Homo sapiens: one gene and its partners. The protein of the gene in region 1 interacts with the protein of each later gene in a pairwise test. Each region holds a gene or a part of one and is shown in the gene's direction. Other genes may lie near its edges.

The links.
Region 2: the proteins of TFG (region 1) and KRTAP26-1 interact in binary tests that used the Homo sapiens proteins (3 or more experiments, as listed by UniProt).
Region 3: the proteins of TFG (region 1) and SMUG1 interact in binary tests that used the Homo sapiens proteins (3 or more experiments, as listed by UniProt).
Region 4: the proteins of TFG (region 1) and ZMYM5 interact in binary tests that used the Homo sapiens proteins (3 or more experiments, as listed by UniProt).

What each region holds. Positions count from the first base shown.
Region 1 is NC_000003.12:100,711,218-100,720,818, forward strand, and holds part of TFG (protein TFG), read left to right. Parts: intron 1-2,425; 5' UTR 2,426-2,468; coding exon 2,469-2,652; intron 2,653-8,757; coding exon 8,758-8,841; intron 8,842-9,601. UniProt on the Homo sapiens protein: Plays a role in the normal dynamic function of the endoplasmic reticulum (ER) and its associated microtubules. Required for secretory cargo traffic from the endoplasmic reticulum to the Golgi apparatus.
Region 2 is NC_000021.9:30,317,396-30,326,077, reverse strand, and holds KRTAP26-1 (keratin-associated protein 26-1), read left to right. Parts: upstream 1-5,762; 5' UTR 5,763-6,042; coding exon 6,043-6,675; 3' UTR 6,676-6,954; downstream 6,955-8,682. UniProt on the Homo sapiens protein: In the hair cortex, hair keratin intermediate filaments are embedded in an interfilamentous matrix, consisting of hair keratin-associated proteins (KRTAP), which are essential for the formation of a rigid and resistant hair shaft through their extensive disulfide bond cross-linking with abundant cysteine residues of hair keratins.
Region 3 is NC_000012.12:54,184,705-54,194,358, reverse strand, and holds the start of SMUG1 (single-strand selective monofunctional uracil DNA glycosylase), read left to right. Parts: upstream 1-5,373; 5' UTR 5,374-5,408; exon of another isoform or gene 5,409-6,456; 5' UTR 6,457-6,540; intron 6,541-7,063; exon of another isoform or gene 7,064-7,313; intron 7,314-7,347; exon of another isoform or gene 7,348-7,466; intron 7,467-9,654.
Region 4 is NC_000013.11:19,822,982-19,825,649, reverse strand, and holds the end of ZMYM5 (zinc finger MYM-type protein 5), read left to right. Parts: intron 1-414; coding exon 415-1,173; 3' UTR 1,174-2,168; downstream 2,169-2,668. UniProt on the Homo sapiens protein: Functions as a transcriptional regulator.

The sequences.
Region 1 (9,601 bases):
TCAGTCTCCTGAGTATCTGGGATTACAGGCGTGCGCCACGACAACTGGCTCATTTTTGTATTTTTAGTAGAGACAGGGTTTCACCCTGTTGATCGGTCTGGTCTTGGACTCCTGACCTCGTGATCTGCCCGCCTCGGCCTCCCAAAGTGCTGGGATTACAGGTGTGAGCCACCGTGCCCGGCCCTCAAATTTTAAATCCATTGAAATTGGGCAACAAACCCGTACCCCAGTCAGAAGGACATACCATCAATTATCTTCAAAGCTGGAATTTTTTTCTTAATTAGGAGTGTGTCTGATGGAAGTCACTTCTAGCTACATAAAGAAGGTACAGTGTGAGGGGTCGGATGTAAAAACTGATCTATATTACAGCTTTCTTCTCCCATAATTAAAAAATTTAAACAAAGTCTTTAAATTCTATATGTCAGGCACTTTTCTAGGTGCTGCTGGGAATAGATAGTACCAGCTCACTGAAGCTAAGCACTGGTTCCTTTTACATTATTGCTGGTTTACACTTCTTGTAGGAAGGAGAAGGTAACAAATACATTGATTTATTGAAAGGTCTTTATTACTCTTAGGCTGCCAGAGCAAGCAAGATGGAATATTTACCATCTTGGTGAAGTAATTATACTTTAGAGTTGGCACATAGTAGGTATTTAATAAGTAGTTCCTGAATACCGAAAGCATTGCAGAAGGCATTGCAGAAGGCGAAGAGTTGGTTGTGTGGAGATTTCTGTTAATCACTGTCTTCACGAGAAGTCCATTGTGAGAACTGGCAGATAAAAAGCTAACTGTATTCTTATTTTGCATTAAGATAAGCATGGCATCCCTAGAGTGGAATGCAGTTCACTCTGTTCTGCATTGACCTTAGAGTGTTATATTTAGTTTTAATGACCCATTTCATTGAAGATTTATTAATAAAATATCTGTTGAGAGCATGGTGAGGGGTCTAGAGATATTAATTTAAGGACTAGTTAGATGGAAGGACCTAGCGTATTTATATGAAGAATAGTAGGGCATTAATATATAATATTCATATAATAGGATTCATGAAAACTTTTTTGAAGTACTTGAAGGGTTGATATGTTGGGGGAGTAGGTGAGTGCTTTCACATACCCCGAAAGAATAAAGAATAATTGCAGAGAAGTGTGGTGTTAATGAAATAACAGATTTAAGAGGAGGAAGCAGAAAGCTGCTAGTAGTAAGGCGGGAAGTTGAAACTAGAATGTGGCCAGTAGTAGTTTGTAGGATACCTTGAAAAGTCTCAAGAGATCATTTTCTTGGGGCAGGAGGAGGAAGGAGTTATGCTTGGAAAATGTTCAGCGATTATAGATAACATTCAGGAACATCTTGGCCTTGAGAAGAAGAGATATTAATCCATTATTTTTCCCTTTATTTAATAGCTGTTGAATGACTGTTGTCTGCTAGGCACTGTTGTAGACTCTGGGAATATGGAAAACATAATCGTTTACTTCCTACCATCAAGTGGAAAAGACAATAAAATGTTATAAATTTTTAATGTCTGGTAGTGTTAAGTGCTTTGAAGAAAAATAAAGCAGGATAAGAAGATAATGCCAGGGGAGCCATTTTAAATTAGATGGTTAGGAAAGATCTCTCTCAGTTAACACTTGATAAGGAATCTGAATCATATGAGGGGTATCAGAAAGGGTCAAGACAAAGGGAAAACTTGAAGTATGGGAATAGCAGGGGTGAGTGAAGAAGAGAGGTAGGAAATGAAGTTAAATACTTGGCCAGGGACTGGAGGCCAGATGATTTTATAGGTCTTGCTTTTTGGGATGAGAATGCATTGGAAGGTTTTGAACAGAATGATACTAGGTTTTACTTAACAGTGTTAACTCTGGTGTTCTGAGACTAGATTAAAAGTGGGCAAAGGTAAAAAGCAGGCAGACTGGTTAGGAGTCTTTTCCAGTCATTTAGGCAAGTGATGATGGTGGCTTGAATCAAGTTGATAGCAGTGAAGGTGCTGAAGTGGTTGGACCCCAGAGTTATTTTAAAGGCAGTGGCAACCATATTTTCTTGGCAGTTTGGATGTAAGGTTTGAGAGAGAGAGATCAACCAAGATTTTTTTGTCTTATACAACTCGAAGGAAGATAAAGAAGCCTCTAGGAGAGGCAGGTTTTAGGTGGAAGATCAGGAATTTATTTTTAGATATATTAAGAAAAATCTAAATGGTCATGTCAGATGAACAGTTAAATATGAGAAAAAATAATAGTAGACGTAAAATAAAAGCTTATTTTATTATCCCTACAGTAAAATAATGTTGCCTCCAGACCATTTTAACATAAATATGGTAACATGGGGATAATGAATCTTTTGGAGGCTAGAGTTTCTTAGCATCTAATAGTAGCTTTGCTCTCAACTTTTACGGTATGTTTTGTTGTTTAATTATCAAAACCACTTTTATCAGTCTTTCTCTAGAGTTGTATATATAGAACATCCTGGAGTCCACCATGAACGGACAGTTGGATCTAAGTGGGAAGCTAATCATCAAAGCTCAACTTGGGGAGGATATTCGGCGAATTCCTATTCATAATGAAGATATTACTTATGATGAATTAGTGCTAATGATGCAACGAGTTTTCAGAGGAAAACTTCTGAGTAATGATGAAGTAACAATAAAGTATAAAGATGAAGGTAAGAGTGTTTTTAAAGCTATTTTTTAAAGTCTTTTTAAAAAAAAAAAAAAAAAGACAGAGCCTCTGTTGCCCAGGCTGGAGTACAGTGGTGTGATCATAGCTCAGTGTCACCTCAAACTCCTGGGCTCAAGCAATCCTGCCTCGGCCTCCCAAAGTGCTGGGATTACAGGCATGAACTGCCATGCCTGACCTTAAAGTCTTAAGTATTGTATGTGTTATTTTGCCCATTTTTATTGGACTCTTTCCCATCCTCTCTTCACGGTAGTTGAGACCTCACTTTCTTGTATTGAATGTGATGTTCCTATAGTTACTATAATTCTCTCATCAGTTAAAATTAGCTAAGTGGGGCCGGGCGCAGCAGCTCATGCCTGTAATCCCAGCACTTTGGGAGACCGAGGTAGGCGGATCATTTGAGGTCAGGAGTTCAAGATCAGCCTGGCCAACATGGCGAAACCCTGTCTCTACTAAAAATACCAAAAATTAGCTGGGCGTGGTGGTGTGCGCCTGTAATCCCAACTACTCGGGAGGATGAGGCAGAGAATTACTTGAACCCGGGAGGTGGAGCTTACATTGAGCCAAGATCGTGCCACTGCACTCCAGCCTGGGTGACACAGCAAGACTCCGTCTCAAAAAAAAAAAAATAGCTAATTGGTTTATTAGAAGGGAATTTTAAGTGTTAGAACATTTTCACATACATTTTTTTTACAAGCATTATTTTCTCCTTTTGTCCATATAATTCTGGTTTCTTTTAGCTTAAAAAAATTTTTTTTCTATTCTTATTTCCCGAAATGAAAGGTTTTAGTATGTATTGAATGAAAAAGGATTTTATGGTCAACTAAGTAAGGGAAAGCTGGTTTAAACAAAGACAAAAGTGTTTCTTTATTGTAGGAGTTTTCAGATTATGTAATATGCTTATATACATTTTCAGAAGTTAGTAGTATGCAGTGTTCCCAGACTCATTTGTTGACAAAATTATCTTTATGGAAATAGGTTTTGAATGAAAAATGTTTCGGCAAACACACTGAGTAGAATTATAGTAGTAGACTGTATTTCCTATTCTTCAACCTGCCTTCTTTGTTAATATCTCTGCTGAAATTTTCTCTTTAGGTGGTTACCAGTGTTTTTTACTGTGGAACTTACTTGCAGTGTATTTAATCTTGACCTCACTGTTTAGCACTGCTACCCACACCATCCTTGTTTTTAAATACTTTTACCTCTTAACATCTCTGACACTGCTTAACCTAGTTTTCTTATCACTAACAGTTTTTTCTCTGTCTGTGTTAGGGTTGGGCTTAAAGTAATGCCAGCAGATATAATAGAAATCTTAAAATCTGAGTGGTTTAATAGTTGAGAAATCTTTCAGGGATCCAGGTTGAAAGAAGCTGTTACCTTCAACACATGGCTTATAAGCTCACCATAGGCATTGACATTGGCAAGCAGATGAGTGAAGACAGAGTATGAAGAATCATATGGGAGATTTTACTCACTAGGCCTGATGGTGTTGTATGTCATTTCTGCCCTTATGACATTGGTCAGTACCCAGTTACATGGCTTTGCTAAGATGCAAATGGGTTGGGAAGTATAGTCCCTGGCTGAGCAGCCACTTAGCACAACTTATACTGTGGAGGAGAAGTGTAAATCACTGGTGATCAGTTAAATTGACCATCTAGCTAAAGGTATAATTCTCCTTTGTTTTTGTGATGTGTAGTCTAAGAATACCCAAAACAAATTTTTGAGAGTTGCCCATGTTAAGAAACAATAAAGGATAGTACTTTTTTCCTGTTTTCTTATGCTTATCATACATTGATTTGCACCTCTGTGACTTTGAAATGTGTGTCTTAATTTGATCAGTGAATTTTTTTTTTTTTTGAGACAGGGTCTCACTCTCATCCAGGCTACAGTGCAGTGGCATGATTATAGCTCATCATAACCTTTAACTCCTGTCCCCAGGCAATACTGCCAACCCGGCCTCCCAAAGGCATAAGCCACCATGCCCAGCCTACAATTCAGATTTTTAACTTTTTTTTTTTTTTAGCAAAGTCCCAAGAGTACTTTTTTTTTTAAATTTTGTTTTAATTGACAAATAATAATTGTACATATTTATGGGGTACATAGTAATGTTTCATTACATATAATGGGATTAGATCAGGGTAATTCGCATATCCATCACCTCAAATATTTATTTCTTTGGGTTAGAAACATTCAATATTCTCCTTCTAGCTATTTGAAATTATATAATATGTTATTGTTAACTGTAGTCATCCTATAGTGCTATAGAACACTGGAACTACTTCTATCTAGTTGTACTTTTGTGTCTTTTAATAAATCTCTCCCTATCCCTCTTTTCCCCTACCCTTTGCAGCCTCTACTGTCATCTGTTCTGCTTTTTACTTGTATAAGATCAACTTTTTTTAGCTTCCACATATGAGAGAGAGCATGTGGTATCTTTTTAACTTAATGTCTTCCAGTTCCATCCATGTTGCTGTGAATGACAGGACTTCATTCTTTTTTATGGCTGAATTGTATTCCATTGTGTATATATACCATATTTTCTTTATCAGTTAATCTGTTGTTAGACACTTAGGTTGATTCCATATCTTGACTATTGTGAATAGTGCTGCAGTAAAATGTGAGTGCAGATTTCTCTTCAATATACTGGTTTCCTTTCCTTTAGTTAAATATTCAGTAGTGGCATCGCTGAATTGTGTGTTAGTTCGATTTATAGTTTTTTGAGGAACCTTCATACTGTTCTCCCTAGTGGCTGTACTGTTGACATTCCTACCAATAATGTGTAAGAGTTCCCTTTTCTCTTCATTCTTGCCAGCATTTGTTATTTATCTTTTTGATAATAACCATCCTAACTGGGGTGAACCTTGTTGTGGTCTTCATTTTCCTGATATGTGTGCATTTCCCTGATGATTTGTGATTTTGAGCATTTTTTCATATATTTATTGACCATTTCTATGTCTTTTTTTGAGAAATGTCTGTTCAGATCATTTGCCGATTTTAAAATCGGATTGATTGTTTTTTAGCTGTTGAGATGTTTGAGTTCCTTCTATATTCTGAATATTCATCCTCTGCCAGATGAGTAGTTGTATTTCCTCCCATTCTGTAAGTTCTCTTTTCACTCTTGATTGTTTCCTTTGCTGTGCAGAAAAGTTTTCCAGTTTGAGATAATCATATTTATTTTTGCTTTTATTGACTGCACTTTTGAGGTCTTATTCATGAAATCTTTTCCCGACCTATTAAAGAGGTTATCCTTTTCCTAATGAGTGGTCTTGTCAAAAGTCAGTTGGCTATAGATAACATGGATTATGTTCTTTTGTTCTATGTGTTCTATTGATCTATGTGTTTGTTCTCTTGGTCAATGGGTCTGTTTTTATGTCAGTTCTGTTGGTCTGTGGGTCCGTTTTTGTGCCAGTCCATGCTTATTACAGCTTTGTAGTATATTTTGAGGTCAGTAAGTGTGACACCTTCAGCTTTGTTCTTTGCTCAGTATTGCTTTGACTGTCTGGGGTTGTATGTAGTTCTGTACAAATTTTATGGTTTGTTTTTAAATTTTTATGAATAATTTTATTGGTAGTTTGATAGGGATTGAATTGAATCTGTAAATTGCTTTGAGTAATTTTGTCATTTTAACAATATTTGTTCTTATATAAGCATGGGATGTCATTACATATGTATGCTCTTTGGTTTCTTTCATCAGTGTTTTTTTTTTTTTTTGTAGAGGTTTTTCATCTTCTTGGTTAAACTGCTTCCTAGATATTTAAAAAAATTTTTGTAGCTGTGGTTAATGGGATTGCATTTTTTATTTTTTATTGTATGTGTATAGAAACACTACTTATTTTTGTGTACTTATTTTGTTTCTGGCAGCTTTATTGAATTCATTTATTGGTTCTAAGGGTTTTGGTAGAGTTTTTAGGTTTTTGTTTATATAAGATTATGTCATCTGCAAACAGGGACAGTTTGCTTCCTTCCCAATTTGGATACCTTTTATTTTTTTCTCTTGCATAATTGCTCTGGCTAGTACTTGCTTAACTGTCTTTTTTTTATTTTTTATTTTTTTGTCTTGAGACAGGGTCTTGCTCTGTCTCCCAAGCTGGAGCGCAGTGGTGTGATCATGGCTCATTGAAGCCTTGAACTCCTGGGCTCAAGCAGTCCTTGCAACTCAGCCTCCCGTGTAGCTGGGACTGCAGGCATGTGCCACTGCACTCAGCTTCTTATTCTTAATGTTTATCAAAATGGGGGTCTCACTGTGTTGCCCAGGCTGGTCCTGAACTCCTGGGCTCAAGCGATCCTCCTGCCTTGGCCTGCCAAAGTACTGAGATTACAGGCATGAGCCAGTGTGCCTGGCCTTTAACTGCCTTTTTTCCCACTTGAAGATGCTTTGCCTTTATCTCAAACTGACCTCATTGACTGGCTTTCTCTTAACTACTGTTTAGGGCAAAGGTCAGCAAACATTTTCTTTAATAGATCAGAGAGAATAAATATTGTAGCTTTGTGGGTCACATAAGGCCTCTGTCTCATCTTTTTTTTACAATGTAAAAACCATTTTTCATTCACAGACCTATAACAACACAGGGATTTTGTCCGTTGGTCACAGTTCATGGACCCTTAGCTTGAGGTGTCCTCGTTGTAGTTTGTCTTCCACATTTAGTTACAACTTTGTATTTCATGGTTTTTTTTTTTTTTTTTTTTTTTTTTGAGACAAAGTCTTGCTTTGTCGTTTAGGCTGGAGTACAGTGGGGTGATCTTGGCTCACTGCAGCCTCCACATCCCAGGTTCAAGTGATTCTCCTGCCTCGGCCTCCCAAGTAGCTGGAATTATAGGCACACACCACCACACTCGGCTGATTTTTGTATTTTTAGTAGAGACGGAGTTTCTCCATGTTGGCCAGGCTGGTCTCGAACTCCTGACCTCAGGTGATCCGCCCACCTCAGCCTCCCAAACTGCTGGGATTACAGGTGTGAGCCACCGCACTTGGCCAAAAAGTTTTTGATTGTTTTGATTTGTGTCCGTTAGATTCTGTTAGTAGAGTGGAGGGATGGCTTAGGTAAAGTTCCTGCCATCAGAGATACTCTGTTTCTGTTGTAGGATTCAGAAAAGAAAAAAAGAACAGGAAGTTTTCTTCTTTTACATACATACTTTATTTTCTTTAAAAAATGTGTTTATGAAAATTGAACATTAAACAAGTATGTTATGGGAAGTGGGTCTGGCTATAAGGAGCTAAAAACAGTTATAAAATTCTCAGTTTTGTCATCTTTGCCCAAAATAAATCCAACTAATTAGTGTTAAAGTAGGTGCAGCAGAGCATCCCAGAAGTAGTCTTGTGGCCTCCCCAGGACAGAACTCCTCCCCACCCAACTGTTTGTGAAGACACCCTGCAGAGGTCCCTGATGAACTCCTTGTCTCTGGCTGCTTTTCTGTTCTTGCTTTCTTTAGAGAATGTATTTTTCCCTTAGCCCTTTGAAAGCTTTTGAGACACACAGTTGGTATGCCAATTATAGCATTCTTTATCCCTGAGATCTGGGGGATTTCACGGTCATAAATACACACTGTTTTGAATATATAAATATTTTTCTGGGGAGAGTTGATTGTTTTCATCTTAATATCAAAATGGTCAGTGACCTGAAAGAATTTACTGTCTATCCATTCATTAAAGCAGTTTTGCAACAGTAGTGTTTTACTCTACCTATGATTAAGATTTGAACTTTGGGAAACTTTTTTATTTCTTGGTAAAAGATGTAAATTTTTTGGAATGAAAAGATTTCAGTCTAAACCAACAATTTATGATATTGCTCTCTATGAATCTCTTACTAGTGACTAATAAATATTAAGGCACTTAATGGATTCACTTTAGCTGTATTTTTTCATGTGGATATGTGTAAATACCTTGCCATAAGAGTAATAAGCAAAATTGATTTAGTATATTTTTGAACAAATGCATTTTTGCTAGACCTTTAAAGTTTAAGGTTTCTATGGGAGAGTCCAACTATGTTCTACAATCTACATTTTGGATTTTTAATTTTTACTAGTTTACTGCTTATACAAATCTGAAAATTTAAAAAATTAAAAAACAACCTTTTTTTTTTTTAAATTCCAGATGGAGATCTTATAACAATTTTTGATAGTTCTGACCTTTCCTTTGCAATTCAGTGCAGTAGGATACTGAAACTGACATTATTTGGTGAGTAGTAAACTTTCTAATGAATTTACTATTTTATTCATTGTATTTTAAAGATGTTTGGCTTTTTTCCTTTTAAAGACTCAGGTAAGCAATAACTTATTCAAATATTATTACATTTATTTGTGTTCAGGTAGTTGTTTTAGATTACTTGAAGCTTATGGCTGTGTATGTTTTTAAGAAAATGATAGAAGTTTAATTCAGTAAGAACAGAGTGTTAAGTATGTTTTTTTTGAAATCAGGTATAACTTAGGTATCCCTGGTGCAGTATTATAGTTTTAATTTAGCTGTATTAGAATTTTTAAATTGTAATTATCTTCCTTCACATTACAGTATGTTGTTACTTATTATCAGGGCTTAACATGTAAGTCTGATACTTGAAACCAGTAGTCGCCAACCTTTTTGCACTGGAAACTGGTTTCGTGTAAGACAGTTCTTCTATGGAAGGGGGCAGGAGAAGGTTTGGGGATGAAACTCTTCCACTTTGCATGTGCAATTCACAATAGGGTTCACACTCCTATGTGAATCTAATGCCACTGCTGAACTGACAGGAGGCGGAGCCCACCACTTAACCTCCTGCTGTGCTGCCCAGCCCGGTTTGGTTCCTAACAGGCCACAGAGTAGCACTGGGTTGGGGACCCTTGCTTTAGACAGTATTTCCCGAGGGGTACTTAAAGATTAAAAATAGTTCTGATAAAAACCAATAGAAGACTAATTTTAATCTTTTAGATTTTTTCTTTTAGATCTTAATAGATATGCAAGG
Region 2 (8,682 bases), on another chromosome or scaffold:
AGCATTTGAATTAGTAGACTAAATAAGGAAGATCTGCCCTTATCAATCTGTCAGACCTCATCCAATCCAATGGAGCCCAGGAGGGAAGAAAATGGTGCAGGAAAGGTAAATTTCCTCTCTCTTCTGGAGCTGGGAGAGCCATCTTCTCCTGCTCTTCAATACTGGAGCTCTTGGTTTTTGGGCCTTTGGACTCCAGGATTTACACCAACACTCCCTTCCCCAACCCTCCATGGTTCTCAGGCCCTTGGACTCATATTAAATTACACCAGTGACTTTTCTGGTTCTCCATCTTGCAGATGGCATGGATGGAGCTTTTCGGCTTTCATAATCATGTGAGTCAATTTTCATAATAAATATCCTCATATATTTATATATATTCTATTAGTTTTGATCCTCTGAAGAACCCTAATACAGCTAAAATAATTTGTTAATAGATACATAATATAAAAAGATGTAATTATGACATCAATAACAAAATATGTGTGTGTGGGGAAGAAGTGTAGAACTTCTGTATGTGATCAAAGTGAAATTATTGTCAGCTTAAAATAAACAGTTAGAAGATGTTTTATGTAAGCCTTATGGTGATCACCAAGAATAAGCTGTTGTAAACACATTAAAATTAAAAGAATCAAAGCATACCACTAAGAAAAAATCGTCAAATCAAAAAGAACAAGGAATCACAAAACAGACAGAAAACAATTAAAATGGCAGTAGTAAGTTCTTGGCAGCAGTAAAGTAATCAAGAATTACTTTAAATGTAAATGGATTTAAATATCCACTTAAAAAATACAGGGTGGCTGAATATATTTTTTTAAAAGATCCAACTAAAATGCTGTCTACAAGAGACTCAATTGAGAGTTTAGAACTCACATAGGCTGAAAGTGAAAGTTATTCCATGAAAATGGTAACCAAATGAGAGCAGTGGTGGCTAGATCTTCTACTGTGCAAAATAGTCTTTACACCAAAAACTATCATAAGGACAAAGAAGGTCATTATATCATGAAAAAGGAGTCCATTCATAAAGAGGATATAACAATCACAAATACATATGCACCCAACATTGGAATACCTAAATATAAAAACAAATATTAACAGAACTGAGGGGAGAAATTGACAGTAGTATGATAATCACAGGAGACTTTGATACCCCGGTTTCAACAGTGGATACATCACCCAGACAGAAGATCAAAAAGGAAACAGCAGACTTACCTAACAGATTTATACAAAACATTTCATCCAACAGGAGAAGAATACACATTCTTTTCTAGCACACACTAAATATTATCCAGGATAGATTATGGGTTAGCCCCCAAAAAAGTCTTAGGGAAATTAAAATCATATTAAACATCCAACCATAATGATATTAAACCACCAAACTAGAAATCAGTAACAAGAGGAAAATTGAAAAATTCACAAATATGTGAAAATTAAACAACACACTACTGAACAACCAATAAATCAAAGAAAAAATCAAAAGAGAAATTAAAAAATATTGAGACAATGAAAATGGAAGCACAACATTCCAAAACTTTGGAATGCATCGAAAACCATTTTAAGATGTTTACAGCAAAAAATACCTACCTGAAAAAAGAAAGATTTCAAACAACTTAACTTCTCAAGAAGTTAGAGAAAGAATAACAAACTAAGCCCAAAGTCAGCAGAAGAAAAAAAAATAGAGCAGAAAAAAGTCAAATAGAAAATTTTTTATAAAATTAGGAAGATTTGTAGAAGTAAGGCTTGTTGTTTTTTAAACATTTCCAAATTTATTTTACAAAACCAGCATTACCCTGATACTAGTGTTGGTCAAGGATAATAAAAGATAAAACAGAAATGAAAACATAAACTGGAAGCCAATATGCCTGATTAAGATAGATGCAAAAGTCCTCAACAAAATACTAGTAAGCAGGATTCAATGGCACATTCAAAGGATGATACAACATGATTAAGTGAATTTTATTCCTGGGAGGCTAGGATGATTCAACACATGCATATCAATGAATGTGATACACCAAATTAGCAGAAAGAAGGATAAAAGTTATCATCCCTATGGATGTAGAAAAAGCATTTGACAGAATTCAACAAACTTTCACGATAAAGACTTTAACAAATTAGGCACAGAAGGAATATACTTCAACATAACAAAGTCCATATATGACAGACTCACAGGTGAAACACACAATGGTGAAAACCTAAAAGCTTTTCTCCCTAGATCAGGAACAAGACAAGGATGCCCACTCTTTCTACTTCTATTCAATATAGTACTAGAAGTCCTAGCCAGAGCAATTAGTCAGAAAAAAAAAAAAAAAGAAAATCACCCAAATCATAACGAAGTAAAATTGTCTCTGTTTGCATGTGACACGATTCTATACATTAGAAACCCTAAAGACTCCACCAAAAAACTATTAGAACTAGTAAATATTAACAGGCAACCCAAAAAAGTAGGAGAGAATCTTTACTGGGAAGTAGAGAAGGGCCAGACAAGTGTCAGAACAATTCTCTGTTGACAAAGAGAAATCATCCACTTTTTTGAGAAAGAGAATCATATGATGAAATTAATTTCATGAGTATTATTTCAAATGCATTATTTAGGCAAAATAGAAGACCATAGGGACAGAAGTCAAAGGTGGCAGTAGGAAATTCACTGAAGGAGAACAAAAAAGCCCAACTTAAATCATTGCCATGATAACAGAAAGAAAAAAATGGAAAGAAATATATAATTTTAGAAGATAAAGGGAGAAAAGCATAACAGGTTTTCCCACTTTCCAATCTATGCTGCAAATTAACCTCAGCACTCTCTTCTTGAAACACATTACTGGATCACCACACCTTTAGAACAATATCTTAACTACTTCCCCCAGTAATTTCAACATGTGAATATGAGTTTGCTTCTTAGAATCCTTCACTGGGAAGCTCTATGTTGTCATTTTCTCTACCTTGACATCTTCTTCCATAGCCTAAAGTGTTTTCCTCTTCTCCAAAGCCCCTTCCATCTTTCAAAATTAATATCAAATGTTAAATTTTTGGTAAGGTGAATGAACTATGTTTGCTCTTCTCTGTACATTACTTACGGAACTTAGTAAACACTGACATGGGTTATGTACCTGTCTTATCACGCTTACCAGATAGTGTACATCTGAGAGCAGAAACCAATTTTATGTTGGTTCCATTGCCAGCATCTATCATAATGTTTTGCACATACTACATGCTCAATAATATTTGCTGAATGGATGAGTTAAAAGTACCTTGTTTATTGGCACAACTTTATTGTTGAAATGTTCTGGGGATTTTTTGTCTCCAAGACAGAGAAACTCAGAATTCTCCTTCTACAGTAGGAGAGACAAAGATCCATGGTTTATTAAAAAAAAAAAAAAAAAAAAAAAAAAAGCAACGCCATGGGTAAATCTGGGAAATCACACAGGATGCCCAGTTCCTCCGATTATCCCTGGGCTCTTAACTCAGAAGAGAAGTCTGAAACATGTAGTTTATAGGATCCTGCTAATGAGGTACCTGGTATTATGCCCAAATAAGCAATTCTCTATTAGTGACACAGCCACTATGAAATAATTTTAGTTCAACCTATATTACATGAAGGACAACTTATATTCAGGGTACTTCACTTTCTGAAGATCTGTTGATATTTTTGCAATTTTACCCCCCCACCGCCCCCCCCCCCCCACACACACACGAGAAACTCATGGTGGTGCTCTAAAGAAATTAAACCCAAGGTCGTACTCTCCAGAATGGGTTAAGAACGCCAAAGCAAGAAAATAGATTACTCTTGTATAACGTTTTACAGTTTATTTTAACTTTTAATGACATCTCAATATATTCCTGAAATGTCACTGAAAAGTAGATACTATTAATATTTCCATAAAATTATACTGATAGTGACTGGGGAGCAGAGCAATTATGCAAATTACCCAATTCACACGGTTATTGGTTATTAAATGATAGTATCAATGCATCTCTATGTAATGCCATATTGGATAGAGAAAAACTGTTTGGGGAGTCAAGGAGCCTTTTTTCAGATGTTTTTCGTAATACCTATTACTGCAACTTTCTAAAGCTCAAGTTTTCTCGTATGAGTACTTGAAATAGTAAGATCTACTGTATAGAATTGTGAGGACAAAGTGAATGGCACATGTGGGCACCCACAGCACAAGGTTCTTCAGAGTAGGCATTCCATGAATGCCAGTTTCCTCTTATTCCACACCCCTTCTCTTCATGGAAAACCATCCATGTATACATAGAACATGTAGTATATACATCTATCCACACATACACACAAGCGTATTGATGTACTAATGATACAGATGTTGGGCTCTTGTTTATATTAGAGAAGAGCAGACATAAAAAGGATCAACATACAATTTCATAAGCATTCAGCTAAATATGACTGTACCTATTACTAACGCCATTCAGCTGATGCAACCAGGATTTTACAAGAAGACTCTAGCAGCTGTATACACAGAGTATTAGGTGATGTCCGAAGTATACAAAGTATCCGGTTATACAAACAGTATTAGGTGATGAGGGCCTGGGGTTGGGGGTTGGAGTGAGTGGGGCTTTCTCAAATACATCAGGTACAAATCGTCTGACCTAAAATACTGAGATAAATTCAACATGTTAGTACAGGACCTCCGGGATTATACCATTTTATTTTTATATTTCTCCCCCAGTAGTAAAATAGTCTAGTGTTGTCTCATTGAGAAACCAACTTTCTGTTTCAGAGATTTCACTCCTCCAGGACAGAGGGAGACTGGATAAGCACAAGTATGTCCCTCAAACACCAAAATAGAAGAAAGTGTTATGATTTAAATTGACTAGCCAAAAGGAATTGGAACTTAGAGCCAGCAGATAATTTAAAATCCCATTAAAATAGCTACTGGAGCCACTGGGTATGTCAGTATGAGAAAAATATAGAGGGATAGTTGAAACTAACTAAAATCATACATTTTTTAAAACAATTTTACCAGAAATACATATTCTCAAATGACCTTTAAAGTACTAAAACTTAGGAAAACAATAATTTATCCTGATGCTTTTCCCTATGTAAAGCAGTTTAGAAGCTCCTTTTTGGAAATTGACATCAAGGCCAATGTAGAAAGCAAAATAAATTCATGTCATAATCAGTGTATTTTTTAACCAAGAACAATATTTTTTCAGTTGGAATATGAGAAACCATGCAATACATAACCTTGAAATAATCATGAAAAATGTCAAGATGCCTGACTTTCTTTAAGAGGTCTACTTCTCTGCTTTTGTTCACAGTAGGATACATAATTTTAACTTGGCCCAACTTCATTATCTATATTCAAGAATATCTTAAACATAAGCCAAGGTTTCAGCTTCACTCAGCTTATTTATTTATTGAAATGACTAAAATGAGCACATATTTTTGAATAAAGATATTTTGGTAGAAAGTCAAGTCTGAATAGAATTCTGAAATAAAGCAAATCACAACTTAGAAAAATAAATTCTAACCAAGCAAAACATATTGAAATTGTCCATATTTCTGTCATATAGTTTGCAAGGATTTTCATTTTCTCTTATACTTGTTCCAAGTTACTCACTTCTGGCAATTTCCAAGAAGAATAGAATTTTTCTTCAAAAAGATGTAAGTTCTCACTGTTTCAAAGAAGTTGCTACAACTTTCAAAGACAATTCTAAGAGAGGAATCTTAAGAATGTTTGTGCAATGGTGGTTATAATTGGAATAAGCACATAGGCTTTAAAATGTGTCTGTTTTGTTTGGATAATTTAAGAAGGATAGATCCTATTAAAACTCAGTCGCATTGGTTTATAGATAGACGTAATCAATGGATGGCATTGCAAGGAGCATCCAGTTTTATGGAGGGTGGAAGCCTCACTTCCTTGGCTATAATAAAGAGTTCTGATGCATCTTCATACAACAAGAGGAAGAGTCTGCACGCAGAAGCACCACCTTCTAGGGATAAATAAAGGGTCAAGCTAAGGAAGGGCAGAACAAACTTCAGACACTCACTTCTTTGCCTCAACTTCAGCCTGCTCTCACAACCTCACTATGTCTTGCCCCAACTACTGCTCGGGAAACTCCAACTCAGGATCTCTCAGAACCTCCCGCCATATTCCTCTCACCTCCATCGACCTCTGCCCTACCAGCGTGAGCTGTGGAGATGTCCTCTACTTACCCACTAGCTCTCAAGACCATACCTGGGTCACAGACAACTGCCAAGAGACCTGCGGTGAACCAACCAGCTGCCAGCCGGTCCACTGTGAGACCGGCAATCTTGAAACCTCTTGCGGTTCTTCCACTGCTTACTACGTGCCCAGGCCTTGCCAAGGAAGCAGTTTTCTTCCTGCTTCTTTCTTCTCCAGTTCCTGCCTTCCAGTATCCTGTAGACCACAGAGGTATGTGTCCAGCGGCTGTCGTCCACTGAGGCCGCTGCTCAATAGTTACCAGCCCATAGGAGACTGTGTGCCCAATGCCTATCGCCCCCAATTCTGCTTGTCCAAGAGTTGCCAGCCCCAAAACCTCCTCACTTCTGGATGCCAACCCTCGAGTTGCTTGGCCTATCGTCCTCAAAGTCTTCACGTTGTGTCCAGCAGCCTCAGACCTCTGGGGCCTCTGTTCAGTGGTTGCCAACCTCTGACCCATGTGTTCAGCACGTGTCGTCCATCTTGCTCTGGACTGTGAAACCAGCAGCTTCTTTGTTCCAGTGAATAATCACTCTGAGCATCCACAACAAAAATTCAAACTCCATGGACTTTTGCTTCTTTGCTAGTAGCAACTGATGTTTCTTAGTTTTACTGTGCCTGATCTAATGCAAGCTGCTTCTCTCGCATGTTTTATCTTGTTTTCATCTTTCCTTGACATCAAAAAAATTAGTTTACAATGCTATTCAATGTTGCTCTGGTCTGGGAAGAATGTATTTGTTTTGCACTATAATAAATGCGATTAAGTCCAAATTAAGAATCTGGTTCAGCGCTTTGTGTTTCATGACTTAATTTCAACACAGAAATAACCAACGTCAATTGCTTGCAAGATGACTGAGCTGGACAAGTGATACTCAACCATATATTCTTACCTGACAGTAGAGGGATTGTTTGATGGTTTATTCCTTAAGCTGCTTTTTAGACTTCTGACCCTATGTACTTGAGAGACCCAAAAAGTCCTTGGGAAAGCTGTTTTGAAAAGGAAAAATTAGGAGTGATGTCTCTTATCTCTCTACCCCATGAACACACTTCCACCAGAATGTTCTTTCTAATTGCAAACCTAACCAAGTTTCTGCTTACGCCTTTGATGGCTTCCTATAATCTATTCCCATAAGATAAATATTCAAACCTCTTAGCATGACACCTAGTTCCCTCACTGTCTTTCTCCCCCATACCTCTCTGGCTTCATGCTCTTTTGCTCAATATTGCAAATAATAAAACTAAGCTCCTGCGATCCTGACTTACACATGGGTCCCCAAACATATGCTTTTTACAGTCATCCATCCTTTTGCATAGGTCATCATCGAGAGCGGTATGTTCTTCAGCTCTGTTTTGAAAACTCATACTTGCTTTTACAAAAACACAGTCTTGAGTTCATTAATTAATCTTTTGATTTATTCAGAAACAAAGGTACTGCTTGCATACTATATGCCAGGCACAAAAGATACTGAGGTGAACAAAACAGTCCTGAACTATCACAGAATTTGCCAGAAGTTATAAGCTATGGGACATGTAACAATTAAAGATACATTTTTTCTCTCACTCAACCTAAAATGTGTGGGGGCATATATTTCATTAATTAAAAGGAAATAAAGTTTTAAAAGCCTGAATATTTACCTTTTTGAGGAACTGGAATAGCTAGAAAAGCTAGAAACTGTATCACTGTGCAAGAAAGTGATTGGCAGGCAGCTCGCAGTAACTCCCAGCTGTTCCCTTTAGACAGGGCACACACTTCTGGTTCTCAGTTCAATCTTGCCCTAGAGACTTCCTGACAATGAAGCAGAATGCCAGTTCCACTTACTATCATGATCATGCCACTGTTGTTAATTTCATTCTGGTTCATTATTTGCCTTATTTGCTTGCTCTCCTGGATATTTTGATTTTGTGACATCTGTATCCCCTATTTTTTGAAGCCTTTCCCCGGCCCTCTCTGTGCCTCTTACCCTAATCACACATTGGCTCAGCCTGAATTTTATCTCAGCCATATGTCTACTGTTAATCTTGTTGAACTGTTATTTTTAACATCATTTTAAATGAGATTTTAGTTAACATATAACATACATAACTAATTTTTGCATGTTCTTGAACTGTAAAATGAAATTATAAAGTATTTACCCATTGGTGTCTGTCTTCTTGTACTAAATATTATGTGTGATTTTTCCATATTGTTATATGTACCAGTAGTCTTTTAATTTTTTGTGTACATAATATTCAAGGTTAAAACACCAAAATATATTTATACATTCTTTTGTTGATGAGCCTTTGGGTTGTTTCTAGTTTGGATCTATTAGAATTAGTGTACAGAATATTCTTGTATTCTTCGGCTATATTTTAATACACATCTGTATCTATTTCTATTCTGCAATATGTGTAAGGGTGGAATTAAGTTATGTAGGATGTGCTTGTTCAGCTCTATTTTACACCATTACAAAGTTATCCTTGCAGTTATGCTAATATTGACTTCTACTATCAGAGTATGAGAATTCCA
Region 3 (9,654 bases), on another chromosome or scaffold:
GTTGCTGAGAGGAGTAAAGGAAACAATCCACATAAAGCACTCAGGGTGGTGTCTGGTGTGGACAAAGCACTCACTAACGGTTAGTTATTGTCACTATCACCCTTACCACTATTCTGAAAGATGTGGAATGGAGGACAGAGACAGAGAGAGGGATCACCAGAGAGATGAGAGGGGCAGTATGGGTGGGAAGGAAAGGACAGGTTCAAGAGGGCTGCAGGAGCAAGAGAAGGCAAATGACAGAGCCAGGGCCAGAGGCAAGGAAATTGTCTTTTGGGAACATTGCAGGGGAAGGAGCAGAGCTCAGAAGAATCACCCTAGGTTCAAGTTCCTGCTCTGTGACTGGTTCCCTGGGAGTGCAGGGCAAGGCAGGGCTGGGCCTCGGTGTTGAGTAGGCTGGAAGCTAGGATTCTTGGGTCGTCCTCCCACTTGGTCCCATGGCCACTCTCTCAGACTCATCTTGATCCTCTTCTAGTTGCTCAATTTGGTTCAACCTGTGGGAGATGCTCCTCCCATTCTCCAAGTCTCACTTCCATCCTTCCTGCTAAAGGACTTGGGGATCAGTCCCATTCCCTTGTCTGTCTGTCTATCTGATGTCTGTGTGGTCCCTCAGGATAATTGCTCTGGACAACTCTAACACCACTCAGACAGATTGTCCGGCCTCCTGGCCCTGACATCTCCCACCACTGCATCAAGCCAAATTACTCGGCCCCCCCAAGCCCCGGGCTCTGGTGAAATCCGATTAGTGAGGAGAGAGCTGCACTGAGCTGACAGCTCCTCCGATAATTGCTTCCCAAGTAAGTGATGCAAATCAGCCCATCCAGCCTATTCCTGCTCCTCTCTTGGGGACCCAGGCGTCCAGGCCCCAGGAGATGGAGGACACCAGAGTTGAGGAGACCTAGACGCTGTCATCTTCCTCCAGTTAAGTAGGCATAATCCATAAAGCTAGGTTGTGCTGCCTTGGGGCTGAGGTGTGCGTAGCAGGGTAGCGAGGCTGAGCCAGGGACCCCACTGGCTCTGCATTTCTGTCTTAACTGAGAGGGTGTCACTTTGTCACCTTATTCTCACCCCTTGGAGAATAATCCCATTTCTTGTAAGGTAGATGAAGGCAGAGATATAGAAGATACAGAGACAGCGAGATGGCTGAACCTGTTGAGAAACAAATCAGGCAGGTGCGGTGGCTTACACCCATAATCCCAACATTTTGGGAGGCCGAGGTGGGAAGATCACTTGAGCCCAGCAGTTCAAGACCAGCTTGAGCAACATAGCAAGACCCTGTCTCTACAAAAAAAATTTTTAAATTAGCTGGGTGTGGTGGTGCGCACCTGTAGTCCCAGCTACTGGAGAGGCTGAGGCGGGAGGACTGCTTGAGCCTAGGAGGTCGAGAGTGCAGTGAGTCATGATCATGCCACTGCATTCCAGAGTGAGACCCTGTCTCAAAAAAAAAAAAAAAAAAAAAAAAAGGACACAAATGGATGAACTCACAGCCTAGCTCCTCTGGTTGTGGGCCCTGCAGATAGCTTTCTCTCTTTGTAAGTGCCCCTCCTCACTAGGCTGAGGAAAAGACATGGAGTGTTAAGTCCCCACAGATGGAATGGGGAGGCATGGGGAATCTGATCAAGTCTGGAGACTTTTGCATCTGTGCCAAGGACATGTCCTTGGGATGCAGTGGCCCTTGCTTAACTCACACATCAAGGAGCCCTTTTCCCTTCCCCAAATCAGGGCCCTTTAAAGGGCCTGTTAATGCTTCTTCCTTAATGCATTTCCTTCCTACATCTTTACTTCAGGTTCTTTCTTGCTGTGACCTCCTTATCCCAACTTCTGCTGACCTTGGAGACCTGAAGAGTTACTTTCCTTGCAATCCTGAACTTCCAACTCCAAACCTAACCCTGCATGCAGGTCACTGTCTTTGGGAAATCTACAGGATGAGCTCCCCAGTCTTGTCCTCCGTGCTTGTGTGTCTGATAGGGCTTCATGGACTGGGTCTTGGGTACTCAGACTATCATCTGCCTGAGACCCTGGCAGAGCAACAGCAATAACTACCCTTTGTGGAGCCCAAATTCTGTAATAAGCACTTAATGTAATTAAGTCATTTAAACATCACAAAAGAAGATAGAGATTACAATGATTATCCCATTTTACAACTGAGATAACTGAGGCACAGAGAAATTAAGTAGCATGCCCAAGGTCACCATGAGTAAGTGGCAGAGCTTGGATTCAAACGCAGCAGTCTGATTCCAGAGCCCAAAGTCCTGAGGCCTCTGCTATGCTGTCTTCACTGTCCTATGCTCTTTTGATGTTTGTTGGGCTAATCGGGACAGGACCCAGTGTAGTGGAAGTGGGGAAGGTGGCTACACTGAAAGTTAAACACCAGAACCCCCTTTGGGGCTCCCCATGTCAGAAACAGTGAGTGGGAGCTGAACAGGGTGAAACTTAGTATCTATGAAGGGGGAAACATGGCCTTCACCTTCTCCAATTCCCGACCTTTGTTTTGTGCAGTGGGAGGCCCCGCAGCTAGACAGCCCTTCCCCGTGAGAAGCGGCGAGGCAAGGGAAAGGCTGAAAGATCCGCCTAGCAGCCCAAGTGAGCAGAGTCGGAGCTAGGACCCAAAGAGGCCGATAGATGGCGCTCATGGCCCAACACAGCTCCAGCAGCCCGAGGAAACAAAAAAAAAAAAAAAAAAACAAGTGAGCCGGTTAACCCCTTCCCTCCCGGGCTCAGGACAGAGGGGCTGGCTGGTGGGTATGCCTGGAGCCCTGCCCCAGGACCGGTGACTCAACTCTCTAGGCTCTTACCCAGGCGATAACCTGGGTCATCTTCTGTTCCTGCCCCACAAGGCTCTACCCGTAAATCACAGTCAGCAGCCTCCTGAAGACTTCCCAGAAGACATGAAGACTAATAAATGGAAGAGACTGGTTGGAAGGGCTGCACCCAAGCCCATGTTTCATCTCTTGGGCTCTATCTCTTGAAAGCCTCAGGGTCCCTGTTTCTAAGCACGCCTACTTCAGGAGAGCGCCTCACCTCCATCTTTCCTGGGAGTGACTCACTGGGCGGGGAGGAATAGCATGGACTAGAGAGAGAGAAGGCCCCAGGCCCCTCTGACATTGGCTGTAGGGACTCACTGTGGGCTGCCTAAGCCTCAGTTTCTCCTTATATCTGGACTTCCTATCTCTGGGTTCCCTGGGGTGGATGGGCTTATAGGGACAGAAACAGTTATTCAAGTCTTCTAGGAAATTGAAATCAGGGGTGGGGAGGTGGAGGTCCTGGGGGATCTCTGCTTGCCTGTTACTCATTTCACTCATTATTGTTCTGCCAGAAGCAGACTTTGAATGTGGAGGGGCTGCCAAGATGACAAACTAGAACAGAAGTGCTGGGCAAGCAAGTGACAGAGGGGTCGGGGTGGACAGGAGGGTTGTCCAAGGGATGGTGGAAATCCTGGAATTTTTAAGCAATGAGATGACACCACAATGAGGTCCCTTCACCTTATTTTTGGTCAGAAACACAGAAATACATAGACACACAGAGATGGGGGAACTTGTTCTAGAAGCTCAGATTCTCTTATTCCAGTCATTCTAGGGTAAGAAGCAGAAACAGGGAGATGTTCACAGAGGGAGACAGAGACCTGCAGATACAGAGAGAAAGCTACACAAGAGACTAGAAATAGAGATAAATTTACATAAGTAGAGAGGGGCAAATAACATAGGCAGAGAGAGACACAGAGAGGGAGAGGATCTGGTAAAAATTAAAGCTCAGGAAATTATGGGCTTCATGAGGTGGATGATTAATTCCATTTCCAAAGTCTTGCAAGGGTCAGGGTAGTTTCTCACCCTTGATGTCAGCAGGTCACTGCTCACAGCTCCCTGAAGCTCCTACTGCACCCATTAAGTTTTTGTTGATAGGAGATCAGACAAGTCCTGGGAAGGGAATAGCATCCTTTTTCTCTCACTTCTTCCTGTTCTGGGGTTTATAGGTCTCCTTTTCTACCACTCACAGGGAGACCTTGCTTCTGTGATTAGAGCCTTGGCTGTGCTAAGGTGTGTGGAGATTGTGGGGTGGGAGGAATATAGAAGATAACTAACCTTAGGGGGTTCCCAGTCTAATGAAAGTTTTAGAGTCACGACACAGAACCAGACCCAGATAGAGCACAAGAACAAAACTAGGAATAGGACAGATTTGGACATAGATATTGGGATGGGGGAATGGTGGGGGAATGGACTGTTAGGTGCAGCCATGGGATGAGGATTGATCAGGGAAGCCTTCCTGGACAAAGTATTTGAGGGAGAAGATTTGGATGGAAGAGTGATAGCTAACTTTATGTGTCTACTTGAGTGGTCTAAGGGACACCCAGATAGCTGGTAAAACATTATTTCTGGATATGTCTGTGGAGTGTTTCTGGAAGAGATTTGCATTTGAATTGGTAGACTAAGAAGATCACCCTCATTAATATGGGTGGGAACCATCCAATCCCTTGGGGGCCAGTAGAACAAAAGAGTGGAGGAAGGCAAATTCTCTTTCTTCATGAGCTGGGACATCTATTTTACCTGCCTTTGGACATCATTGGAGTTCCTGGTTCTTCGTCCTTCAGGCTCTGGGACTTAGCAGTGAGCCTCCTCCCCTGCTTTGGACTTTCCTGAATTATACCACCTGTTTTCCTGGTTCTCCAGTGTATAGACAGCAGAGCGGGAGACTGTGGGACTTCTTGGCCTCCACAATCCTGTGAGCCAATTCTTGGAATAAATCTCGTCATATAGATAGATATCCTGTTAGTTCTGTTCTCTGGAAAACTCTTGACTAATACTGAGGTTATAGGGTTGGGCAGATAGCAAGGCAGAGAAAGAAGTCAAAATGGTGACACTCTGGAGATGGGCTTGGACAGTAATGGGGGATGCCCCTTGCTAAAAAGTTGTTAGGAGCTACCAGAAATGTCTTCGTGGATGTTCTGTATAAGTAATGGCAGGCTGCAAAGGAGAAGTCTCTTATACCCACGGTGGCAGGGGGCCTAGCAATGGTCTTTAGCTATTGTTAATACCTTCAGGTGGGTGAGGGATTGGGGATGGTTGAAGCTTCCTGATTTGCAATCCCTTTGGGAAAATAGTGAATGAACTTTTGGAAGGGCGATGCCCTTTAGGGATAGAACCCAGGATTTCCTAGGTACTTACAGGCTGTGGCTTTTCACTTCTCAAGACTTCCTGATTTAACGCTGATGGAAAGATTAAACTACAATTCCCAGCGATCTTTAGGGCTAATTTAGTGCGCCTTCCGGGATTGGAGCATTTCCGGCGGAAGTGGCTGCGGGTACGCCAATCTCCTTCCCTAAACAATGTAGACTACGACTCCCACTGTCCTTAGCGCCGGGGGTTGGGTTTGGGGTGGGGGAAAGGAACCGGAAACGGGATGGGGAGCTGGACCAGGTGAGGAAGTAGGGGGCTGGGAATCCGGGACTGTGGGGGCAAGTTGACGGCTCCCAGGGTCGTCGGGGCTGAGCCGAGAGGGTGGTTAGAATTTCTATATTTTGGGGTCCCTCCCTCCGTATGGGGTAAGACTCAGTGCAGGGAGAGCCCAGCCTATGAAACCGCCTGGGAGGTCTGCAGGATCAAGGCTTTCCAGTCGGCCGGAGCCAGCGGGCGCCCCCGGAGGTTTTGTATGGTGCCTTAGTAGTCGGCCCCTTTGGAACCAGATGAAATGGTCTTTTTGAGTTTATGCTTTATTATTATTATTGTTTATTTATTTATTTTTCTGAGACGGAATTTTGCTCTGAATTCCAGGCTGGAGTGCAATGGCGCGATCTCAGCTCACTGCAGCCTCCGCCTCCCGGGTTCAAGCGATTCTTCTGCCTCAGCCTCCCGAGTAGGTGGGATTACAGGCGCGCGCCACCATGCCCAGCTAATTTTTGTATTTAGTAGAGACTGGGTTTCACCATGTTGGTCAGGCTGGTCTCGAAGTCCTGACCTCGTGATCCGCCCGCCTCGGCCTCCCAAAGTGCTCGGATTACGGGTGTGAGCCACCGCGCCCGGCCTATGCATTATTATTATTATTATTATTATTATTATTATTATTATTATTATTTATTATTATTATTATTATTATTATTATTTCGTTTAAGGATATTTATTATTGTCCCTGGACTCCCGGAGTGCCTCCAAAGGACAGGGGAGTGCATATGTGATTTCGATTCCTTCCTCACTTCCCGGATTTGATGTCAGAGAAGTCTGACATCAGTCTGAAGTCGGCCCTTGGTGGTCAGCCTTATCGCTTGGTCCAACTCCGCTGTCTTTGTGCTTAATGTAGTATGACACCGTATTTTATAAAATATCTACATTTCTTAAGCCTCTGGCTCTTGGGGCGACTTTGGGTAGAACTTACAAGTTCCTCCTTTGGGTTCTCTTAGTGTTTTGTTCCGGGTATTAAAGCTCACATCACACTGTATTACAGTTAGTTGTTTATTTGCCCTCACAGCAGATTATGAGCTTACAGAAAGCCTGGCCTACATTTTACTCTTTTTGGATTTCTTCCTCATCAAGAGACTGCTGCAGTGCCTGTCATGTAAGAGACTCATAAGTATTGAAAAAAAAAATGAGTTAACAGGTGGTAGGTTGGATGGAGTATGTGATTTTCCATAGAGAAGAGAGTTAAATGAGTTGCTCAAGAGAACCTTCTTAGAGATGAAACAGGAGTAGAATTCAAATCAATTGACTTCCAGCCTGTGGCTCTTGCTATGAGATCAGGCTTTGAAGTTATGGAACAATGAAAGTAGTATCTTGCCACTCTTTTCCCCAGCCTTGCTGTTTCCAACACAGGTGTCTAAATGTCAAAGGTGGGCTCAAGACTTCTCGAGATTCTAGAGCTGGAGCAGCCAATCTGCTAATGTTGGTGTTGCATGGGGAGATGCAAAGCAAGGTCCCCTGAAACACTGGCGTTCTCCACAGCACCCTTCTCAGCTTTTGTATGAGCCCAGTTTGTCCTGGGTAGCCACCTGGACAACAGATCAGTTAAAGACTACTGAGACAGTCAGGGAAGGACTTCCTAAGTTGGGCCTCTGATTTCTTTTCTCTCCCACTTCCCCTAGGCTAGGGTGAGAAAATAGGTTTATCGAGCTGTTGTGTCAACCTTGAGTTCTTATCTTGGAGAAGTCACTCCTGACCCAGGCAGAAAGTTGAGAGGAAGGAATGACAATGGTCCTTGTCGCATGGGAGGCACACATATGATGGGCACAGACCCAGAGTCTGGAAAACAAGCAGAGTGCAAAGTGGGCAGCTAAGCCTTGAGTGAACTCAGGATATAGAAGTGGAGAAGGATCCATCAGGAGTGCCTCCTTGGTAAAAGCTGTTTATTTTATTTTTATATTTACAGATGGGGTCTCATTATGTCAGCCAGGCTGGTCTTGAACTCCTGGCCTCAAGCAATTCTTCTGCCTTGGCCTCTCAAAGTGCTGGGATTACAGGCATGAGCCACTGTGCCCAGCACAGAAGGTAGTTTTAAACAAAAGTGAAAAAGAAGATGGACATTGCTGAGCAGGTGTTTGTTGAGTACCTAATAAGGGCCAGGACCTTGGGCTTATGGAGGGAGATTGAACAAGGCCTGGCTCTTGATCTGCCCAAGTTTAGCTGGGGAGGCAAAAGGAATTCATTAAGACGACGGTAACCATGGTGACACACAGTGGTTCTCAGCCTTCACCAACCATCAGAATCACCCTGGGAAGCTTGTTTAAAATACAGATTCCCAGGCTGGGCACGGTAGCTCACGTTTGTAATCCCAGCACTTTGGGAGGCTGAGGCAGGCAGATCATGAGGTCAGGAGTTCGAGACCAGCCTGACCAACATGGTGAAACCCTGTCTCTACTGAAAATACGAAAATTAGCCGGGTGTGGTGCTGCGCACCTGTAATCCCAGTACCCAGGAGGCTAAGGTGGGAGAATCACTTGAACCCGGGAGGCAGAGGTTGCAGTGAGCTGAGATCGCGCCACTGCACTCCAGTCTGGGCGACAGAGCAAGATTCTGTCTCAAAAAAAAAACAAAACAAAACAAAACAAAAAACACAGATTCCCAGGCCTCACACGGGACCTACTTGTGTTGGGGGTGGGGTTGGGACACTATGGCAAATACTGCAGTGTTCTGAGGAGGGAAGACTTTATCAAAGGGATGGTTTGAGCTGCATTTTGAAGGATGGGAGTGATTTGGATATGTGGACAGGTTGGGGAATCAACAGTCCTAGTTGACTGGATGACTGCTGGATGATGTCCTGGTTGACTTCAGGAGTGTATTTGGTTGGACTGTAGAAATGGTATGTGCAAGGTTTTGGGAGTTGAGGCAGGAAAGGCATTTTGAAAATGTGAGTAGAATGGTCAGGTTGGAACACTGGGTTTGAATGGGAGTGGAGTGAAGCAATGGCCTTTGCAGTTTACAAAGCTTGCTGTCATGTTCCTGCCCCCTCCCTTCTCCTTCCTCCCACCTCCCTTCTCTCTTCCCTTTCTTCTTCCTCTCCCATTTCTTTTCTCCCTTCACCTAAACATAACATCTCATTCCATCCTTACGTCTGTTTGTTTGTTTTGAGACAGTCTCCCTCTGTAGCCCAGGCTGGAGTGCAGTGGCACAATCTCGGCTCACTGCAACCTCTGCCTCCCAGGTCCTGGTTCAAGCAATTCTCCTGCCTCAGCCTCCCATGTAGCTGGAATTACAGGCACGTGCCACCATGCCCAGCTAATTTTTGTATTTTTAGTTGAGACGGGGTTTCACCATGTTGGCCAGGTTGATCTTGAACTCCTGACCTCGTGATCCACCTGCCTCAGCCTCCCAAAGTACTGGGATTACAGGCATGAGCTGTTGCGCCCGGCAAATTTATTTATTTATTTATTTATTTATTTATTTATTTATTTATTTTTTATTTTATTTTTTTTTGAGATGGAGTCTTGCTCTTTTGCCCAGGCTTGAGTGCAGTGGCACGATCTTGGCTCACTGCAACCTCAGCCTCCCGGGTTCAGGCAGTTCTCCCTGCCTCAGCCTCCCGAGTAGCTGGGATTACAGGTGCCCACCACAACGCCCAGCTAATTTTTTTTTTTTGAGAGAGAGTTTCACTGTTGTTGCCCGTGCTGGAGTGCAATGGCACGATCTTGGCTCACCGCAACCTCCACCTTTCAGGTTCAAATGATTCTGCCTCAGCCTCCAGAGTAGCCGGGATTACAGGCACGTACCACCATGCCTGACTAATTTGTATTTTTAGTAGAGGTGGGAGTTTCTCCATTTTGGTCAGGCTGGTCTCGAACTCCCGACCTCAGGTGATCTGCCCACCTCAGCCTCCTAAAGTGCTGGGATTACAGGCTTGAGCCACCACGCCCAGCATGCCCAGCTAATTTTTGTAATTTTTAGTAGAGACGGGGTTTCGCCATGTTGGCCAGGCCAGTTTTGAACGCCTGACCTAAGGTGATTCAGCCGCCTTGGCCTCCCAAAGTGCTGGGATTACAGGCATGAGCCACCATGCCTGGCCTTCCTTATGTCAACATTATTAAGTGGATATTATTATTCTTTGTATTTGAAGGTGGAAACCTGAGGCTCTGGCCATGGTTGTGTAGCTCGTAAGATTCTATGAGGAGTCTGTAATCATCCTACTCGGTATTCCTGAGTGTGGGAAAGAAGCTAGGCTGGGGTTAGGGGGTTGTAGAAT
Region 4 (2,668 bases), on another chromosome or scaffold:
TTTGGGACAGGGTCTCACTCTTTCGCCCAGACTGGAGTGCAGTGGCGCGATCTCAGCTCAGCTCAACCTCTGCCTCCTGGGTTCAGGCGATTCTCCTGCCTCAGCCTCCAGAGGAGCTGGGATTACAGGCGCATGCCACTGTGGCCCGGCTAATTTTTGTATTTTTAGTAGAGACAGGGTTTCACCATATTGGCCAGACTTGTTCTCGAACTCCTGACCTCAAATGATCCATCCACCTTGGCCTCCCAAAGTGCTGGGATTACAGGCATGAACCACCGCACCCGACCGTCGTCGTCTTTTTGATTGGCATTTCTTTGATGCCTAATGATGAGCATGTGCTTATTGAGCATTTGAATATACATTAATTTTTAAAAGTTTAACCTAAAATAAAATTATAATCCTCTTTGTCCTCAGATGATGGAAACAAAATCAAAAAAATTAACAGCATCAGAAAATAGAAAAAGGAATGCTTTTAGAGAAGAAAATGAGAAACAATTATATGGATCGTCAAATACACTTTTGAAAAAAATAGAGGGAATCCCAGAAAAAAAGGAAAAGACTTCACAGCTACAGCTTTCAGTAGAATGTGGCACGGATACATTACTGATCCAAGAGAATGTGAATTTACCTCCTTCTTCCACGTCAACCATAGCTGATACATTTCAAGAGCAACTGGAAGAGAAAAATTTTGAAGACTCCATTGTACCAGTTGTGCTTTCCGCAGATCCAGGTACGTGGCCCCGAATTTTGAATATTAAACAACGGGACACTCTTGTTGAAAATGTTCCGCCTCAAGTAAGAAATTTTAACTTTCCAAAAGATAATACAGGGAGGAAGTTTTCAGAAACTTATTATACACGGATTCTTCCAAATGGTGAAAAAACCACTAGATCCTGGTTACTTTATTCAACCTCAAAAGATTCTGTGTTTTGTCTATATTGCAAACTCTTTGGGGAAGGAAAAAATCAACTGAAAAATGAAAATGGGTGCAAAGATTGGCAACATTTATCACATATTCTTAGTAAACATGAAGAAAGTGAAATGCACGTCAACAATAGTGTTAAGTACTCAAAATTAAAATCTGATCTGAAAAAAAATAAAGCTATTGATGCTGCAGAACACAGATTATATGAAAATGAGAAAAATGATGGTGTGCTGTTGTTGTACACGTAATATACCTGAGTTGTTTTTTGGCATGATGATCAGAATCTTACATTACTCAGAAAACATCTGTCCTGCAATAGTCAGTACTATTGTGTTGTAAGTCTCCTCTACAGAGTAACTTGCAGCAGTTCCTTAGCAATAAGTATGATAGCAAATAAATAGCAAAGAATGTTTCCATTCTAAATCTAAAACTAATTAGATTCAATCATCATTAGGCAATGACTTCATTAGGCAATGAAGATTAACAATAGGTAATTGTTAATCTTCAAAATCTATCAATTTACACCTATTTAAAAATTGGCATTTAATGACTGCCATTTGATGGGTTTGGTTAATATTCTGTTCTTGGCCGGGCGCAATGGCTCACGCCTGTAATCCAAGAACTTTGGGAGGCTCAGGCGGGTAGATCAATTGAGGTCAGAAGTTCAAGACCAGCCTGGCCAACGTGGCAAAACCTCGTCTTTACTAAAAATACAAAAATTAGCCAGGTGTGGTGGCACACACCTGTAGTCCCAGCTACTCAGGAGGCTGAGGCAGGAGAATCGCTTGAACCCAGGAGGCAGAGGTTGCAGTGAGCTGAGATTGCACCACTGCAGTCCAGCCTGAGCAACAGAGCGAGAGTCAGTCTCAAAAGAAAGAAAAATATTATGTTCTAATTACCTTGAAAGAGGAAAGAAAGGCTTGAATTGATCAATACCAGTTTGAATAAGATACTTATGTGAACAAGCATTCTCAACATTATTATTAAAGTAAAACTACTCAGTTTACAGAATGGGATCTGAAACTACAGCTTTTTGCTATTAAACCAAATACTTGTGATCTACTTTGTTTGAGCAAAACAGCATTATTTGTTATGTTAATGATGGTTAATTTCCATTTTATTGGTTTTATGTTTATTTTAATTTGTAAATGTTTTAGCATTTATTATTGTATGTGAACTATATTTACCTATTTTATGTTGATAAAAATATAAAAAATATTAAAATAAGTATATATTAAGTTAACCTTCAAGTGTTATGGGCTTTTTTCTCCCTGTGAAAAGAGATGGCATGCTTGAAATTTGAGATACACCAATGAAAATTAAGGATTTAAGTTATTTTAGATGGTCAGCAGCCCCATCACTGTGTATTTAGTAAATCTCCCTTCTGTTTCTGATTTCTGATGTCAATTTTGTAATATATTAAATTTTTATATACTATTCCTGTGAAACAAAATGGCATATGAGCAGTGACTAGGACAGAAGGTGCGTTCTTGTGGGATGACACTAGGAATACTTGCAGACTCTCAATGATACCAGTGTATATATTTTTGGAATACCCGTGAAAGTAATCCTCATTAACTTCTAACCATTTTGAGTGTTTGTTTGTTTGTTTGTTTTAAATAAAGATGGGGTCTACTATGTTGTCCAAGCTGATCTTCAACTCCTGGTCTCAAGCGATTCTCCCACCTCAGCCTCTCAAAGTGCTGGAATTACAGACTTGAGCTACTATGCCCAGCCACCATT